Regions from separate parts of the Homo sapiens genome. Here region 2 is linked to region 1. The links come from fine-mapping of genetic effects on gene expression. Tissue or cell type: whole blood. Region 1 holds a variant in brackets; the other region holds the start of a gene. All regions are shown on one strand. Distances are between the middles of the regions.

Evidence for each region. PIP is the estimated chance that this variant, and not a neighbour inherited with it, causes the effect.
Region 2: it holds the start of MICALL1, and the variant in region 1 is fine-mapped to the expression of MICALL1 in whole blood (TOPMed, PIP above 0.99).

The regions. Positions count from the first base shown.
Region 1 is chr22:37,818,300-37,826,366 of GRCh38, forward strand. GALR3 (galanin receptor 3) reads left to right here and starts at 5,083. Exons shown (of 2, transcript NM_003614.2): 1 at 5,083-5,466; 2 at 6,424-7,186. The coding sequence starts at 5,108. The coding sequence ends at 7,171. RefSeq lists an enhancer at 793-1,344. The variant C/T (reference allele first, on the strand shown) is at 3,629.
Region 2 is chr22:37,902,808-37,910,874 of GRCh38, forward strand. MICALL1 (MICAL like 1) reads left to right here and starts at 3,490. Exons shown (of 16, transcript NM_033386.4): 1 at 3,490-3,761. The coding sequence starts at 3,616. RefSeq lists enhancers at 2,181-2,996, 2,997-3,812, 3,813-4,628, 4,629-5,442, 7,432-8,067 and silencers at 3,103-3,822, 3,933-4,042.

The sequences.
Region 1 (8,067 bases):
CTGCTGGGGTCCAGGAGCTGGGGGAGGGGGGGTGTGGGGGGTCGGTGTGAGGGTGGAAGGCAGCCTGGCTGGGGTAGCTGTGGCCACATTAGCGGCAGGAACATTTGCAGCCCACCACCACCGGCTAGGGCACGTGGCACCAGGCGCGCTGCTGCAGGGGATGTGCACAAGGGCTCAACCAGTAATGTCGAGCCAGCAGCTGGATGAGCATGGTCTGCTCTAGCCAGCAGCTCATGTTAAGCGCCACGGGCAGCTGCGGGGTGACGTGTGGCAGTCGGTGTGCTGCACCCGGCGGGGCCAGAACAGAGGGCCCAGGTCCACCCAGACCGACGTGAGGCGGCACGAGGCGAGATCCAGACAGCGGCGCAGAAAGTGCGTCGCCGCCCCTGTGGCTCCCAGGAGCCGCCGCTGGCGTTGCCCTGCTGCGCTGGCAGCGCCGCGACCCCCTGGGCTAGCCGATCGCGGTAGGGCTCCACGCCGTTGGCCAACCCGCGGCTCAGCGTGTCCTGCTGCACCAGCCCGGGTCCGCCGCCGCGCTTCTTCCGCAGTCATCCAGAAGGTGTCTGTAGGAGGCGCAGCAGCCGCTCTGGGTGCACGTGTTTCGGCTTGGGCGCCTACCGGTAGTCGCCGGCCGCCCACGACAAGCTGTAGGGCCACGCGGGGCGGGAGGGCCGGCCGTGGACCAGCTGCAAGTCTGCGTTCTGCAGAATCAGAGGCTCTGAGGACCGCCCCAAGGGCGCAATGTCCTTGTTCTCTGCGTCGCGCACGGGGTTCAGGGCCGCGGGCTACCAGAAGCGGCAGTAGGAGTGGATGGAGGTGGCACCGGGCGCACCCAAGGTCTAGGCTCACGGCCGCGCTCTTTATGGCCGCCTGTTCCTTCCTCCTTCCCTCCACCTCCGCTCTCATATCAGCTTAGCCTTGCCGCTGCTGGGAGCTCATCGCCCTAGGCCAAGAAGGACCTTGTGGGCAGGGGGCTCCCAAGGGCCAGGAGTGCGAAGTCATGAATCTCAGATGCTTTCCAGCCCGTTCCAGGGTTCAGGCATGCACATTCGTCCAGGCTTCTGGGAGTCTAAGGGTGCGTTACTTTCACGCAGTGGTTGCAGGTCTGTCAAAGTTTCTAAAATCCCACCAAGCTGAGTCTCGCCATTCAGGGATCATAAGAGTCTACAATTCCTTTGCGCAATTCAATTCTGAATTCAATTCAGAATTAATTCAATTCTGGCCGGGCGCGGTGGCTCATGCCTGTAATCCCAGCACTTTGGGAGGCCGAGGCGGGCGGATCACGAGGTCAGGAGATCGAGACCATCCTGGCTAAAACGGTGAAACCCCGTCTCTACTAAAAATACAAAAACAAAACATTAGCCGGGTGTGGTGGGCGCCTGTAGTCCCAACTACTCGGGAGGCTGAGGTGGGAGAATGGCGTGAACCTGGGAGGCGGAGCTTGCACTTGCAGTGAGCTGAGATCGCACCACTGTACTCCAGCCTGGGCAACAGAGCGAGACTGTCTCAAAAATATATATATATATTAATTCAATTCTGAAGCTTCTGAATTCAGGTTTGGCAAGTCTAGATTAGATTCCTAATAGTTTCAATTCCGTGAGACTCTGCTTCCAAAAATTGAGGAATTTCTGCATCTAAAGAAGGTGACATCAGGCTCTATAGAGGCACCTCTGAGCCCTCGTGAAAACCCCGGGGCCTTTGAGGAGCTGGTTCTTTTCTTTTCTTTTTTTTTTTTTTTGAGTCTTGCTCTGTTGCCCAGGCTGGAGTGCAGTGGCACAGTCTCCGCTCACTGCAACCTCCGCCTCCCGGGCTCAAGCCATTCTCCTGCCTCGGTCTCCCAAGTAGCTGGGATTACAGGTGTGCACCACCATACCTGGCTAATTTTTAGTAGAGATGGGTTTCACCATGTTGGCCAGGCTGGTCTTGAACTCCTGACCTCAAGTGATCCAACTGCCTTGGCCTCCCAAAGTGCTAGGATTACAGACATGAGCCACCACGCCTGGCCTTAAGGAGCTAGTTCTGAGCATCTACCCCAGCTCCTCCGGCCTGGGATGCGAGTCCTGGCTCCATCAGCGCCCCTCACACTGTTTTCTCTCCCCTTACGCACTTCCCCTTGATGCTCCCCAACCCCAGCCCCAGCTTCTAAAAACACTACACTCAGCCCCTCCACCTCTCCCCTCCCTTCCTTAACTCACTGCAGACTGCCTTTTGCCCTCAAAACACCTGTCCAGTTTACCAGCAGCCTCCTCATTGCTGAATCCAGTGTACCTTGCTCCCCAGGTGCTAGCCTCCCTAACCCTCTGGAGGCATTTGGCCATGTGGCCCCTCCTCCACACAGTTCAGGACAGAACTCCATGACCAAATCACACAGCCGTTCACCAAGACCTATTCTCCTCTTTGGCTCTTGCCTAGACGAGAGGCTCCTAACAGGTCACTCATCAAATCTCTCCCACTCTGTCCATCCTTTTCACCCCGGGCAATAATAGACTTTTTTTTTTTTTTTTTTTTGAGACAGAGTCGCTCTGTTGCCCAGTCTGGAGTGCGAGCGATCTCGGCTCACTGCAACCACCACCTCCCAGGTTCAAGCGATTCTCGTGCCTCAGCCTCCTGAGTAGCTGGGATTATAGGTGTGAGCCACCATGCCCAGCTAATTTTTGTATTTTTAGTAGAGGCAGGGTTTTGCCATGTTGGCCAGTCTGGTCTCGAACTCTTGACCTCAGATGATCCGCCCACCTCAGCCTCCCAAAGTGCTAGGATTACAGGTGTGAGCCGCTGCGCCTGGCCCATAACAAACTTTTTACAAAAGATAATGTGGGGGGAAAAAAAGAAAGAAAGAAAGAAAATGTGCGGGTCATGTCTCTGCTGTAGAATCTTAGTAGTTCCCCGTTGCTATCAGGTAAAGCCAGACTTTTTGGACAGGTACCTAAACCATCTGGGCTCCAGCTGGACTAAGGCTCTGGAAAGAGCTTCCGGAGAAGGATCTCAGGATTTGCAGAGCCTGAGGGAGGAGTCTCTGGAGTCTGCCGAAAGGAGACTCAAGTCCTGGTTTCCCACTCCAGGAAACCCCAGTCAAGACTAGGAATCCTTTTTTTTTTTTTTTTTTTTTTTTTTTTTGAGACGGAATCTCGCTCTGTCGCCCAGGCTGGAGTGCAGTGGCACGATCTTGGCTCACTGCAACCTCCAACCCCTGGCTTCAAGCAATTCTCTGCCTCAGCCTCCCGAGCAGCTGGGATTACAGGTGCCCGCCACCACACCCAGCTAATTTTTGTATTTTTAGTAGACATGGGGTTTCATCATCTTGGCCAGGCTGGTCTTGAACTCCTGACCTCATGATCCACCTGTCTTGGCCTCCCAAAGTGCTGGGATTACAGGCATGAGCCACCGCGCCCAGCCTCTTCTTTTTTTTTTTTTTTTTTTTTTTGAGACAATGTCTCACTCCATCACCTGGGCTGGAGTGCAGTGGCGTCATCTCGGCTCATTGCAACCTCCACCTCCCAGGTTCAAGCGATTCTCCTGCCTCAGCCTCCAGAGTAGCTGGGATTACAGGCGCCCGCCACGACGCTCAGTTAATTTTTGTATTTTTAGTAGAGACAAGGTTTCGCCACATTGGCCAGGCTGGTCTCGAATT[C/T]CTGGCCTCAAGTGATCTGCCTGCCTCAGCCTCCCAAAGTGCTGGGATTACAGACGTGAGCCACCATGCCCGGCCTAGGAACCTTTTCTAAACATGGATTGGAGCAAGAAGGTGCAGGGATAGGGGATGGAGTCACATCAGGCTGGGCCACAGGAGGTGGGAGTGCCAGAGACTGGCTGGGCCCTGGGCACAGAGGGGTTAACTACAAAGCAAATCACAGAGAGCGAGATCAATGGGTTACTGGCTGCAGAGAGAGGAAAAGGCAGCAGCAACGCAGAGAGGCAGAGAAGAGCCAGGCAGAAGAGCCTGCCACCTGGGGGAAATCAGGGACTGAGGAGGAAGTGGCCAGTGGCTACTCCAGAGGGAGTGCCCAACTCCGGCTCAGCAGAGGGGGCAGAGGAGAGGAGGGGCCTTAAAGGCAAAGGGGGAGAAGTAGAAGGCAGACCAGTACCTGCAGGGAGGCACCAAGGGGCAGCCGCTGAATCAGGAGGCCCACCCAGCCCGGCCATTCCACCCAGGATCAAGCCCACTGCCCAAGGCGGAGGTGGGTGTTGCCCATCCTGGGCTTTGGGGACCTACTGCATGCTGGGTGCTGGGATGGGGGCAGACATTGCCTTTCTTCCCTACTCCCTGCCTGACCCCCCTTTCCCCTACTTTGTCCCACCACCCCAGTGGTCTCAAGCCTGCAAGGAGATCCACAGGCAGTAGGAGACATGGGCTGTAGAGTGGGATGGGGGTGAGCATGGGTGCGGTGTGCACACACACAAGTTGTCAGAGGCACCACCTGTTACAAGCTCTCAGATGAGCACTCTAGCTTAAGAGGCAGGATACCAGGGTGGCAACAGCCCCAGAGCTGCCATTTCGAGTGTGATATTATCCTCCCATGTCCCCTCTCTGGGCCTCAATTTCCCTATGTGCAGAGAGGAAGCAGTGACCTACACGGTCTTCCCAGTTTTGCCATTGTGATGATCTCACTATACTGGACCCTCCAATGACTCAGGGATGTTACCCGTGTTTTGCTAAGGCTACAGCTTGTAGCCAGAGAAAGCCCTAAACCCATGTCCCAGGGTCTCCCCTGAGCTTCAGATCCCCATTGAGAAGGAAAACATACCAGTTTCTGGGTTTGGCCCCTCCCCCCATCGCCATATCTTCATCCTACTTCGCTTGTGCCTTCCCCAGCCTCGTGGGTTGAAAGTGTCCCTCAAATACCTAGGTAGTCCTCCAGGCAGGACTCCAGGGGTGTTCCTTAGGAAACTGAGGAACTCTCACCCCTTGAACACCACGAGCTTGCTCACACAGTGACACTCAGCGATGACTTTGGCTCTGCTCTCCCCTCCTCCATCTCCCACGAGCTTCCAGCCCAGAACACCTGGCCAGACCCAGGTCGGGGGAGTTAGATCCCGGGGTCAAGCAACCAGAACTGGGGGCTCTTGCCTGAGGATTCCAGCTTCTCTTCCCAGGTGCCCGTCTGATGGGGAGATGGCTGATGCCCAGAACATTTCACTGGACAGCCCAGGGAGTGTGGGGGCCGTGGCAGTGCCTGTGGTCTTTGCCCTAATCTTCCTGCTGGGCACAGTGGGCAATGGGCTGGTGCTGGCAGTGCTCCTGCAGCCTGGCCCGAGTGCCTGGCAGGAGCCTGGCAGCACCACGGACCTGTTCATCCTCAACCTGGCGGTGGCTGACCTCTGCTTCATCCTGTGCTGCGTGCCCTTCCAGGCCACCATCTACACGCTGGATGCCTGGCTCTTTGGGGCCCTCGTCTGCAAGGCCGTGCACCTGCTCATCTACCTCACCATGTACGCCAGCAGCTTTACGCTGGCTGCTGTCTCCGTGGACAGGTGCGCTGTGCCTGGGGCCTGGCTGGGCAGGGCTGTGGGGGCGGGGGTTGGGGGAGGAGTCCTGAACAGATCCTCACTGGCCTTAGGAAGGAGAGAGTGGGGGACCAGAAAGGGAGGTGGGTGGGAGGAAACAAAAGCTCCCTGACCCCTCGCAAGCAGCCTCTGGGCACCTGCAGGGCGTGCTTGAGGGGACTGTCCTGCCCTTCCCCTCCTCCACTGTGAACTTCCAGAGGACGCCTCTGAGTCTCAAGTGGCAGCACAGGGTCTGGCACATAGTAAGTGCTCTGTAAGCGCGAAATGAATCGCAAAAGAAGCTCACGAATGCGTTCATCAGTTTTTTTGTTTTGTTTTGTTTTGTTGTTTTTTTTTTTTGGATCTTGGCTCACTGCAACCTCTGCCTCCTGGGTTCCAGCGATTCTCCTGCCACAGCCTCCTGAGTAGCTGGGATTACAGGCCACCACACCTGGCTAATTTTTTGTATTTTTAGTAGAAACGGGGTTTTGCCATGTTGGACAGGCTGGTCTCGAACCCCTGACCTCAAGTGATCCGCCCGCCTCGGCCTCCCAAGTGCTGGGATTACAGGCGTGAGCCACCGCGCCCAGCCCAGCTATTTTCTAACTGCCCACACCTGGCCAAGCTGTGCACACATCTGCTTCCACAGCTTGAAACTTGGGGTCAAATCCAGGCTCACTCCAGCTGATGACCCTGGGCAAGTCACTTCTCTCTGGACCTCATCTGACGCATCCATAAAATAATCCTAGAAATAACAAGTCACCGGGATCGGGCCCTTGCTAGGTGCAAGGGCCTAAGCACCTTGCGCGTTCACACCCTTAATCCCCGCCACGTCCCCCACGGTTCACAGGAGGCGCACTGGGCCGCAGGGCCCGGGCGCGGGACGTGGCGCGGGCCCCTGCGGGAGGGCACCTGCCCGCCCCGCTGACCAGGCGCCCTCCGCAGGTACCTGGCCGTGCGGCACCCGCTGCGCTCGCGCGCCCTGCGCACGCCGCGTAACGCCCGCGCCGCAGTGGGGCTGGTGTGGCTGCTGGCGGCGCTCTTCTCGGCGCCCTACCTCAGCTACTACGGCACCGTGCGCTACGGCGCGCTGGAGCTCTGCGTGCCCGCCTGGGAGGACGCGCGCCGCCGCGCCCTGGACGTGGCCACCTTCGCTGCCGGCTACCTGCTGCCCGTGGCTGTGGTGAGCCTGGCCTACGGGCGCACGCTGCGCTTCCTGTGGGCCGCCGTGGGTCCCGCGGGCGCGGCGGCGGCCGAGGCGCGGCGGAGGGCGACGGGCCGCGCGGGGCGCGCCATGCTGGCGGTGGCCGCGCTCTACGCGCTCTGCTGGGGTCCGCACCACGCGCTCATCCTGTGCTTCTGGTACGGCCGCTTCGCCTTCAGCCCGGCCACCTACGCCTGCCGCCTGGCCTCACACTGCCTGGCCTACGCCAACTCCTGCCTCAACCCGCTCGTCTACGCGCTCGCCTCGCGCCACTTCCGCGCGCGCTTCCGCCGCCTGTGGCCGTGCGGCCGCCGACGCCGCCACCGTGCCCGCCGCGCCTTGCGTCGCGTCCGCCCCGCGTCCTCGGGCCCACCCGGCTGCCCCGGAGACGCCCGGCCTAGCGGGAGGCTGCTGGCTGGTGGCGGCCAGGGCCCGGAGCCCAGGGAGGGACCCGTCCACGGCGGAGAGGCTGCCCGAGGACCGGAATAAACCCTGCCGCCTGGACTCCGCCTGTGTCCGTCTGTCTCACTCCCGTTCTCCGAAGGCGGGACGCCACCGGGCCAGGGATGGGGCAATGCCACGAGCTCTCTGAGGGGCGTTGAGTGGAGCGACTTGTCCCCGCTCCACAGCGGAGCACCAGCCCAGTGGACACCCCTGGGTGTGAATATGAACAGCACAGCCCGCCCCCAGCAGGGCAGCCCCCAGAGCCTGCCCAGAGCCAGCCTGGCAGTCCCTCTGCCCATTCTTCCAACTGGGTGACACCTAGGCCCTGCTTCCTCCACCACCTCTTAACTATCTCCTTCTTGGTTCCAAGCTCAGTCCTAGGTAATTTAACATCAACAGCTAATAAATGGCTAATATTTAAGTGGGACCAGGCGCTTGGCTCATGCCTGTAATCTCAGCGTTTTGGGAGGTCGAGGCGGGAGGATCGCTTGAGGCAGCAGTTCAAGGCTGCAGTGAGCCATGATCACGCTACTGCATTCCAGCCTAGACAGCAAAGCAAGACCTTGTCTCTAAAAACATTTATTAAGCAGGTACCATATGCCTCATGCTACATTCTTTGTCAAAACAGCTTTGCAAATAGATATGATTAACCTTTCCTTTTTTTTTTTTTTTTTTTTTGTCTTTTAGAGACAGAGTTTTGTCTCCCAGGTTGGACTACAGTGGCGCCATCTCGGCTCACTGCAACCTCCGTCCCCCGGGTTCAAGCAATTCTCCTGCCTCAGCCTCCAGAGTAGCTGGGATTACAGGCGCCCACCACCACATCCGACTAATTTTTTTTTTTAATAGAGATGGGGTTTCACCATTTTGGACAGGCTGGTCTTGAACTCCTGACCGCAGATGATCCGTCCGCCTCGGCCTCCCAAAGTGCTGGGATAACAGGC
Region 2 (8,067 bases), 85 kb after region 1:
AACTGGAACTTTAGATTTATTTTTAAATTTTTGATAAGAATGATGTATTCAGGCTGGGCATGGTGGCTCATGCCTGTAATCCCAGCACTTTGGGAGGCTGAGGTGGGCACATCACTTAAACTCAGGAGTTTGAGATCAGCCTGGCCAACATGGCGAAACTGTGTCTCTACTAAAAATACAAAAATTAGCTGAGCTTGGTGGCCCATGCCTATAATCCCAGCTACTAGGGAGGCTGAGGCAGGAGAATCACTTGAACCTGGGAGATGAAAGTTGCAGTGAACCGAGATCGTGCCACTGCACTCCAGCCTGGGCGAGAGAGACTCGTCTCAAAAAAAGACAGGGTCTCCCTATATTGCCCAGGCTGGTTTAGTCTTGAACTCCTGGCCTTGGCTCCCAAAGTGTTGGGATTACAGGCATGAGCCACCGTGCCTGGCCCCATTTCTTAATTGATAGTTAAAAATAAAACAAAACAGCACTGAATTAAGGGCCCAAGTCTCTCAATTCTAATCCCGAAATTATAGCATGATTTTGGGCAAGTGCCCTACTCACCTATCTCTGTGGCTTCTGATCTCACCTGTAAACACACAGACCCACCTTCCACCTGAACCCTGGATTTACAGTCTGCACAGCATTTTCTCATCCATTATCTCACCTTGTTACCCACAACCCTGGGATTCAGGCAAAGCAAGTATTATCATCCTCATTTTATAGGGTAAGAAATTGGGGTTCATGAGGGTGAGTTGTCTGGCCTGCGGTCACACACTGTGGTCGTACAGGTCCTTACTTCGAAACATTGTGAGCTGACTCAGATAATGAGTTTATAAAGCCCACAAATGGCTAATGGGGGTGACCAGGCTGTGCTGTGTAAGCTATTAGTATGGCAACAGGATCAGATATGGAGCTGTCTTCAGGGACCTAAAGGGAGCCCTTTAGGCTAGTGAGGACAGGGCTATAATCCCTCCTGGTTTCTTTTGTTTGTTTTTGGTTTTTTGTTTTTTAAATGGAATCTCACTCTGTTGCCCAGGCTGGAGTGCAGTGGTGCGATCTCAGCTCACTGCGTCCTCCACCTCCCGGGTTCAAGCCATTCTCCTGCTGGGATTACAGGTGTGTGCCACCACGCCCAGCTAATTTTTTGTATTTTTAGTAGAGATGAGGTTTCACCGTGTTAGCCAGGCTGGTCTCGATCTCCTGACCTCGTGATCTGCCTGCCTTGGCCTCCCAAAGTGCTGGGATTACAGGCGTGAGCCAAAAAAACCCACCATCTTTGAGATGGAGTCTCGCTGTGTCCCCCAGGTTGGAGTACAGTGGCGTGATCTTGGCTCACTGCAACCTCCGCCTCCCAGGTTCAAGCGATTGTCCTGCCTCAGCCTCTCGAGTAGCTGGGACTATAGGCACGTGCCACCACGCCTGGCTAATTTTTTTATTTTTAGTAGACACGGGCTTTCACCATCTTAGCCAGGCTGGTCTTGAACTCCTGACCTCATGATCCGCCCACCTTGGCCTCCCAAAGTGCTGGGATTACAGTGAGCCACCGCGCCTGGCCCAATTTTTTGTATTTTTAGTACAGACGGGGTTTCACTATGTTGGCCAGGCTGTTCTCAAGCTCTTGACCTCAGGTGATCCACCTGCCTCGGCCTCCCAAAATGCTGGGATTACAGGTATGAGCCATGGTGCCCAACCCCGCCCCCCTTAGGTTTTAATGAGAGTCCTGGGTGGTCTTTGAAGGCCTAGGTGGATGCTGGTGTCAGGATCCTGAACCCAAGTCCCTGATTTCATAAAAAGCATCCGGAATCCTGCTTTCCTGCCACTGTTATCCCACAGGGGACAGGGCAGGAGTTGGCAGCTCAGGGCTGGTGAGAAGTCCAGAGGGCTAGCCAGGCACTCTGGCCATGCTCTTCCTAGGTGGCCTGAGAGTCCATATACTGAGCCAAGATGGCGGCCTTCCAGTTGCAGGAGTGTTAGGCCAGCCCAGATTGGCAAGCTGGGTTCTCCAGGCCCTGGGCCAGTATTCTGGACTGGGACTCAGTGGACTTTGAAGAGGTAGAATTCCCTAAGTCGGCCTCTCTCCTTGATAATTTACCCAGAATGGCCCAGATGACAATCTGGGTACAAAATATTTCAGTCCATTTCATCATGTTTACCAAGTACCAGGAGTCAATAGAATTTATGAGTGATAACTAAAGGGTAAGGCACTTTACATCTTAATCCTCTCAGCCACCTTGTAAAGCAGGTATTATCTCCATTTTTAAGTCGTGGAAACTGAGGTCCAGGGAGGCACAAGATCACATGACTAAGGGAGTGGGGAAAGCCAGGATTGGAGATTGGGTTAATAGGGCTCCAAAATGCCTGATCTTTCCACTCCCCTGAGTGCTCAGGGGTGATGAAGATGACTAAGACCCTGTTCCTTCCCTTGGGAGGGAGCGAAATACCCACTCCAGCTAACTATTGCATGGGTCAGGGTGACATCACCACCTCTGCAGCAGATGGAGGCTGATTCATCTGTGGGAGAGTCAGGAGGGGCCTCTGCGGAAGGGTCGGCTGGCTGGAAGGGTTGGCTGGCTGGAAGGGTCGGTTGGCTGGCGGGGGTTTTGAAGACGGCAAAGATAGAGAATGAGCCTTGGGGAGGTTCCAGGGCCAGATACAAACTGCCTGTATGCCTCCCAGGCAGGGGCCTCCTTGGCCTAGGTCCTTCCCATAGGAACTCAAACCACCACCACACTAACCATGGCTGAGGGGACCCGGCAGGCCGCAGTGGGGAGGGACGAGATCCCTGAGCTTACACAGGGGCTGAGGGGAGCTCAGTGAATCACCTAGGGGACACCTGGACCAAAGGTGGCGGAGGGGCGCATGGGTCTCCCTGCCAAGCTATGGGGGAGGGGATGGTGGACATGACAACTTCCAGCTCAGCGGTGCTTTAGGGTGGGGAGCCGGGATGAGGGAAGCTGGTGGCTATCCGGGGGGGGGTGCTCTGAGGTCTGCAGGGGAACTGCCTCCCCAAAGTTTCAAGCTAGGGGTGGAAGGGGGGATTTGCGGTCATTAGGAGCGGGAAGGAGGCCGGATGGGAGCACGAGGTGTCCCGCCTCCAAAGGGTGGAGGGCTCCCGGTGGGTGGCGCGGCGGCGGCCGCGGCGGTGAAGTCATCGTGGGGAGTGGTCCGCTTGCGGCGGGTGCGGGGGCTTCGCGGGCACCCAGTGGAGCAGCGGGAGCCCGGCGCCGTCGAGGGGCGGGCGATGGGGCGCCGGCCCGTCTTGGTAGGGGTGGGCTCCGCACTGGAGGCGGAGCTGCTGCTGGGTGGGGCGCGCCTCCGGCGCGGACGGAGGCGGCGGGACGCCCGCTCCCACGACCGGCCCACAATGAGGCGAGCGGGCAGCGCGGAGTAGGCGGCGGCCGGCCGGGCCGGGCCACGCGGCGGCGCTGCTCGGGCAGGTTAGGGCAGGGCCGCGGGGCGCCCGAGCGAGGACACCGCGGCCCCGCCTCCGCCCCTCCCCTCGCCTGCCGGTCGGCGCCCGAGCTCGGAGCCGCAGCCGCAGCCGGAAACCGGGCCCGCGCGGCGGCCGCCGTCCCGGCCAAGCCGGGGCCCCGAAGCCAGAGCCGGAGCCGGGCGGGCCGCGGGGTCATGGCTGGGCCGCGGGGCGCGCTGCTGGCCTGGTGCCGCCGCCAGTGCGAGGGCTACCGCGGCGTGGAGATCCGCGACCTGAGCAGCTCCTTCCGGGACGGCCTGGCCTTCTGCGCCATCCTGCACCGGCACCGGCCCGACCTGCTGTGAGTGCGGGGCCCCGGGCGAGCGGGCGGCGCGGGGCGGGCTGGGGCCGCGACCGCCGCCCCCCCTCAGTAACACGAAGCCCGGGCGGTGACAGGCGCCGCCCCCGGACACGGAGACGCCGACCCCCCCGACGGCCCCGGACGCCGGGCGGGTCCCTGAGACCCCGGCCCAGGGCGCCCCTCCCCCGCCCGGCCGCCCTGACCCCGCCCGTGGGATCCCGAACTCTCCCCCGAGGCTGGTCCCTCCGCGGGGACACTGGCCCCGCCCACAAAGCGCTGATTTCCGCCGAGGATCGCTGAACCCCTAAGCCCTTGACCTCTTTGAAGGGGTGTTGAGCCCTCTTTGGGGGCCCTGGGCCTCTCCTACCCTAAACTCTTCTCCACGGGCTCGCCGGGCCTCCCCTCTCCCCCGAGGCTTCCCACTCGGGGTGGCCCCTTGCTCCGGGTGTGCAGGTGAACCCCCACTTCTCTGACCCCCAAATAGGAGCTTGTCTCCGGACAGTAGCACAGTTCCCGGCACAGAGGAGACCTCGGCTAACAGGTGTTGGATGAATGGATGTACAGACCCTGTGCTTTCCCCACGCCCCCCAACTTAGGACGCAGCCCTGCCTCCCGGGTGTGTGCTCGATGGCCCTGCAGCCCTCCTCAGTGGGGCACGCAGGTGGGGCGCGCAAGAGGAGTCACAGGCCGGCAATGTTGGGAAGACTCCTAGGATCCGATTGATAGACACCAACCGGGTGCTGCAGGTTGTGAAATGGCCCCTTCCTGCCCAGAGCTGCCCAATGAGGTTCTCATGGGAAAATGCATTCAGACTCCCCGGAACAGTTGACTTGGAGCCTCTGTCTTTGCTCTCTCTGCCTTGAGCCCTGGAACCTCTCCTCCTTTCGTCCCTTCATTCCTAAAACACTGGGTGAGTTTATCTGGTGCCATTCCTTGCACTTCAGGTCTCACCTGTGAATCAGGGAGGAGAGTTCTGGTCCCTACCCCTTTCGCATGCAGCCCTCTTGCCAGGGCTCCCCCAGCCTGGCAGATGGAGGCTTTCTGTGCCTGTTCCACCTCCAGATTTGCACTGTCCGAGGGCAGCATGTGGGAAGGCTTCTAAGGGATTGCCTCAGGATTCCATGATGCAGGTGCACCTGGTTTACCTGTATGTACCCTGCAGTACCGTGTCTGTGGGTGGTGGCTTGGGCCCTGGAGGAGAGGGTTTTGGGGCTGTGGATACAGAAGGGAACAAGATGAGGTGGTCATGTAGGTGGGCCCCTGCCCGCTGTGGGGCATGTGACACCCATACTAATGGAAGCACAAGGTTGATGCCTGGTTGCCCAGGAGCAGGGGGTAGAAGGATGGAGGAAAAGGGCACCAGGGTTAGACCTGGGCATTGGAAGGGAGGGCCCAAGGGGTCTTCTGTTTTGTTTGAGGGGCAGGAGTGAGGCAGGAAGCAGGGACAAACCCAGTGTGGGAGGGGACTTGGGTGTGAAGTGAAGCCATTTGGTGGGCCTGAGCCTGGTGGCATCAAAGTAAATAAAGGCCGCCTGGTTTGTGTTTAGCTTCTCCATGTCTTAGGCGCATGGCCTTGGGTCCTCATGGGCTCTCTCCAGGCATCAGTGTCCTCATCTGTGAGGTGGGATTGATAATGTGACACAGCTCACAGAAATGTGAGGATTGCATGAGATAACAAGCATTCATTTAACATTAGTTACTGTGAGTAACTAATGTTACTTTTTTTTTTTTTAATGTTTTTTATTTTTTTGAGATGGGGTCTCACTCTGTCACCCAGGCTGGAGTGCAGTGGCACAGTCATGGCTCACTGCAGCCCCCACCTCCCGGGCTCAAGCAATCCTCCCACCTCAACCTCCCTAGTAGCTGGGACCACAGGCACACGCCACCACGCCTGTCTAATTTGTTTGTATTTGTAGAGATGGGTTTTCACCATGTTGCCCAGGCTGGTCTTGAACTCTTGAGCTCAAGTAATCTGCCTACCTCAGCCTCCCAAAATGCTGGGATTACAGGCATGAGCCACCATGCCTGGCCCAATAACAATGTTTGATTTCTTCATTTATTCAACCAGTATTTGTAGAGTCATATTGCTCTGTGCTGGACACTGTACCTGGTAATGGAAGTACCAATCGACAAAACAGGCAACCCTACACGCTCTCCCACACCTGTAGGGGAAACGTGTATAAACGATGATGGCAATTCCATGTACCCTATCAGAGGGCTGGGGGTGGGAGACCTCCTAGGGAGAATATAGTCTTCAAGGAGATGGCAGGAGCCAGGTGAGGGCTGCTGGGTGGACGTTCTGGCATGGGACCCCATCTGAGCAAAGGCAAGGGGCGGGAGGTGTGTGCAAAGCTGGAGGCTGTGTAGCTGAGTGGGGAGCACAAGGTAGCGAGTTGGGAGATGCAGTTGGGACAGATGGCTGACAGCTGCTTTTGCTGGCTAAGGAGCATGGATAGGGGCCTCAGGGAACCATGCAGGGTTTTTTTTGTTTTTGTTTTTGTTTTTTTGAGATGGAGGCCTGTCACCCAGGCTGGAGTGCAGTGGCGTGATCTCGGCTCACCACAACCTCTGCCTCCCGGATTCAAGCGATTCTCCTGCCTCAGCCTCCCAAGTAGCTGGGATTACAGGCACGCACCACCATGCCTGGCTAATTTTTGTAGTTTTTAGTAGAGATGGGGTTTCACCATGTTGGCCAGGCTGGTCTCGAACTCCTGACCTCAGGTGATCCGCCTGCCTCGGCCTCCCAAAGTGCTGGGATTACAGGCGTGAGCCACCATGCCTGGCCGAGCCACGTAGGTTTTTTTTTTTGAGACGGAGTCTCGCTCTGTCAGCCAAGCTGGAGTGCAGTGGCATGATCTCTGCTCACTGCAAGCTCCACCTCTTGGGTTCACGCCATTCTCCTGCCTTAGCCTCCCGAGTAGCTGGGACTACAGGTGCCCGCCACCATGCCTGGCTAATTTGTTGTATTTTTAGCAGAGACGGGGTTTCACTGTGTTAGTCAGGATGGTCTCAATCTCCTGACCTCGTGATCCACCTGCCTTGGCCTCCCAAAGTGCTGGGATTATAGGTGTGAGCCACCGCGCCTGGCCAACCACGTAGGTTTTAAGCAAGGGAGGGATGTGGCTGGAAAAAATGTGCAGGGGAGGGTGGCTCCGCTTCTGAGATCCAGAATCATGTCCAGGCATTCATTTGCAATATTGCCAGCGCATTGCACAGGAGAGAAGCTGAGGCCCAGGTCCCACATAATGTGTAGGGAAGTCCTCAGTGATGGGTTGGGAGGATCTCCGTGAGAATAGGAGTGGCCTAGAGTGAGGGCAAGAATCATCTCCTAAATTGGTTCAGGCTTCTGGGGCTGTGGGCCCTGCCTGGGTGAACCCAGTGTTGGCCCAGGGCTCTGCTGGGACGAGGGTTGTGGGGGCTGGGCCATCCCTCCGCACCACCCGAAATCCAGACATGCTTAAGCTCCTTTGAGGGCGTGGACCATGTGGGTTTCATTTCTGTGTCCTTCATCTTCCCCAGAGCCAAGTAGAACTCCGCAGGCCTCTGAAGACTCTCAGAAAATATATGTGTTACCAAAACACAGATGTTAATTAGGGACAGAGATGGGGGTGGAAGAAAACCTGCAGGATCCTGAAGGTTTTTTACAGTTTTCACACTGTTTTCAACATTGATTCATTCAACAAACATTTACGGAGCATCTTCGAAATTTGGGGAACTGTGTAGGGAGTTGGGGGCACAGAGTAGCTAGAATGTGACCCCAGCCTTCTTGGAACACTTCTGGGGTGACCGAAATAAACGGCTGAGACAAGTTGCTTTTGTCTCATTTGGTCTTGGAAAAAGCCTCTGTTGGGGGCTGGGTACCATGGTGTTTTCCTCGCCCTGTTGCAGTGTCCTGAACCGGACCGGGAGACAGAGGTTTCGAGAGGTGAAACACCTTGCTAAGGTCGCACTCTGAGGCAGTGGCAGAAAAGGGGAGCTAGGGAGGCAGCCCAGGGGAGAAGGAAGTGGCCTGGTCAGAGTGGCAAAAAGGGAGCTGGTGCCCAGACATAGTCACCTTGCCTCTCCCCGTCCACCCAGCCCTGGGGCACCAGACCCCTTCCAAGGTCCTCAAGCAACTCTTTCCTGCCCAGGGTTCACAGTCCCTGGCCCCTGCCTGGAAAAGTGTTGGGGGCAGGAGGAGGGGGCTGTGCTTACCTGGCTCCCTCATATCTGCGAGGCCTGCCCTTTACCAAGCTGGGACTCCACCAGCTTGGGAGGTGGTATTAGTGCTTTTCCTGATTTGCACATGGGACAATGAATGCTGGAA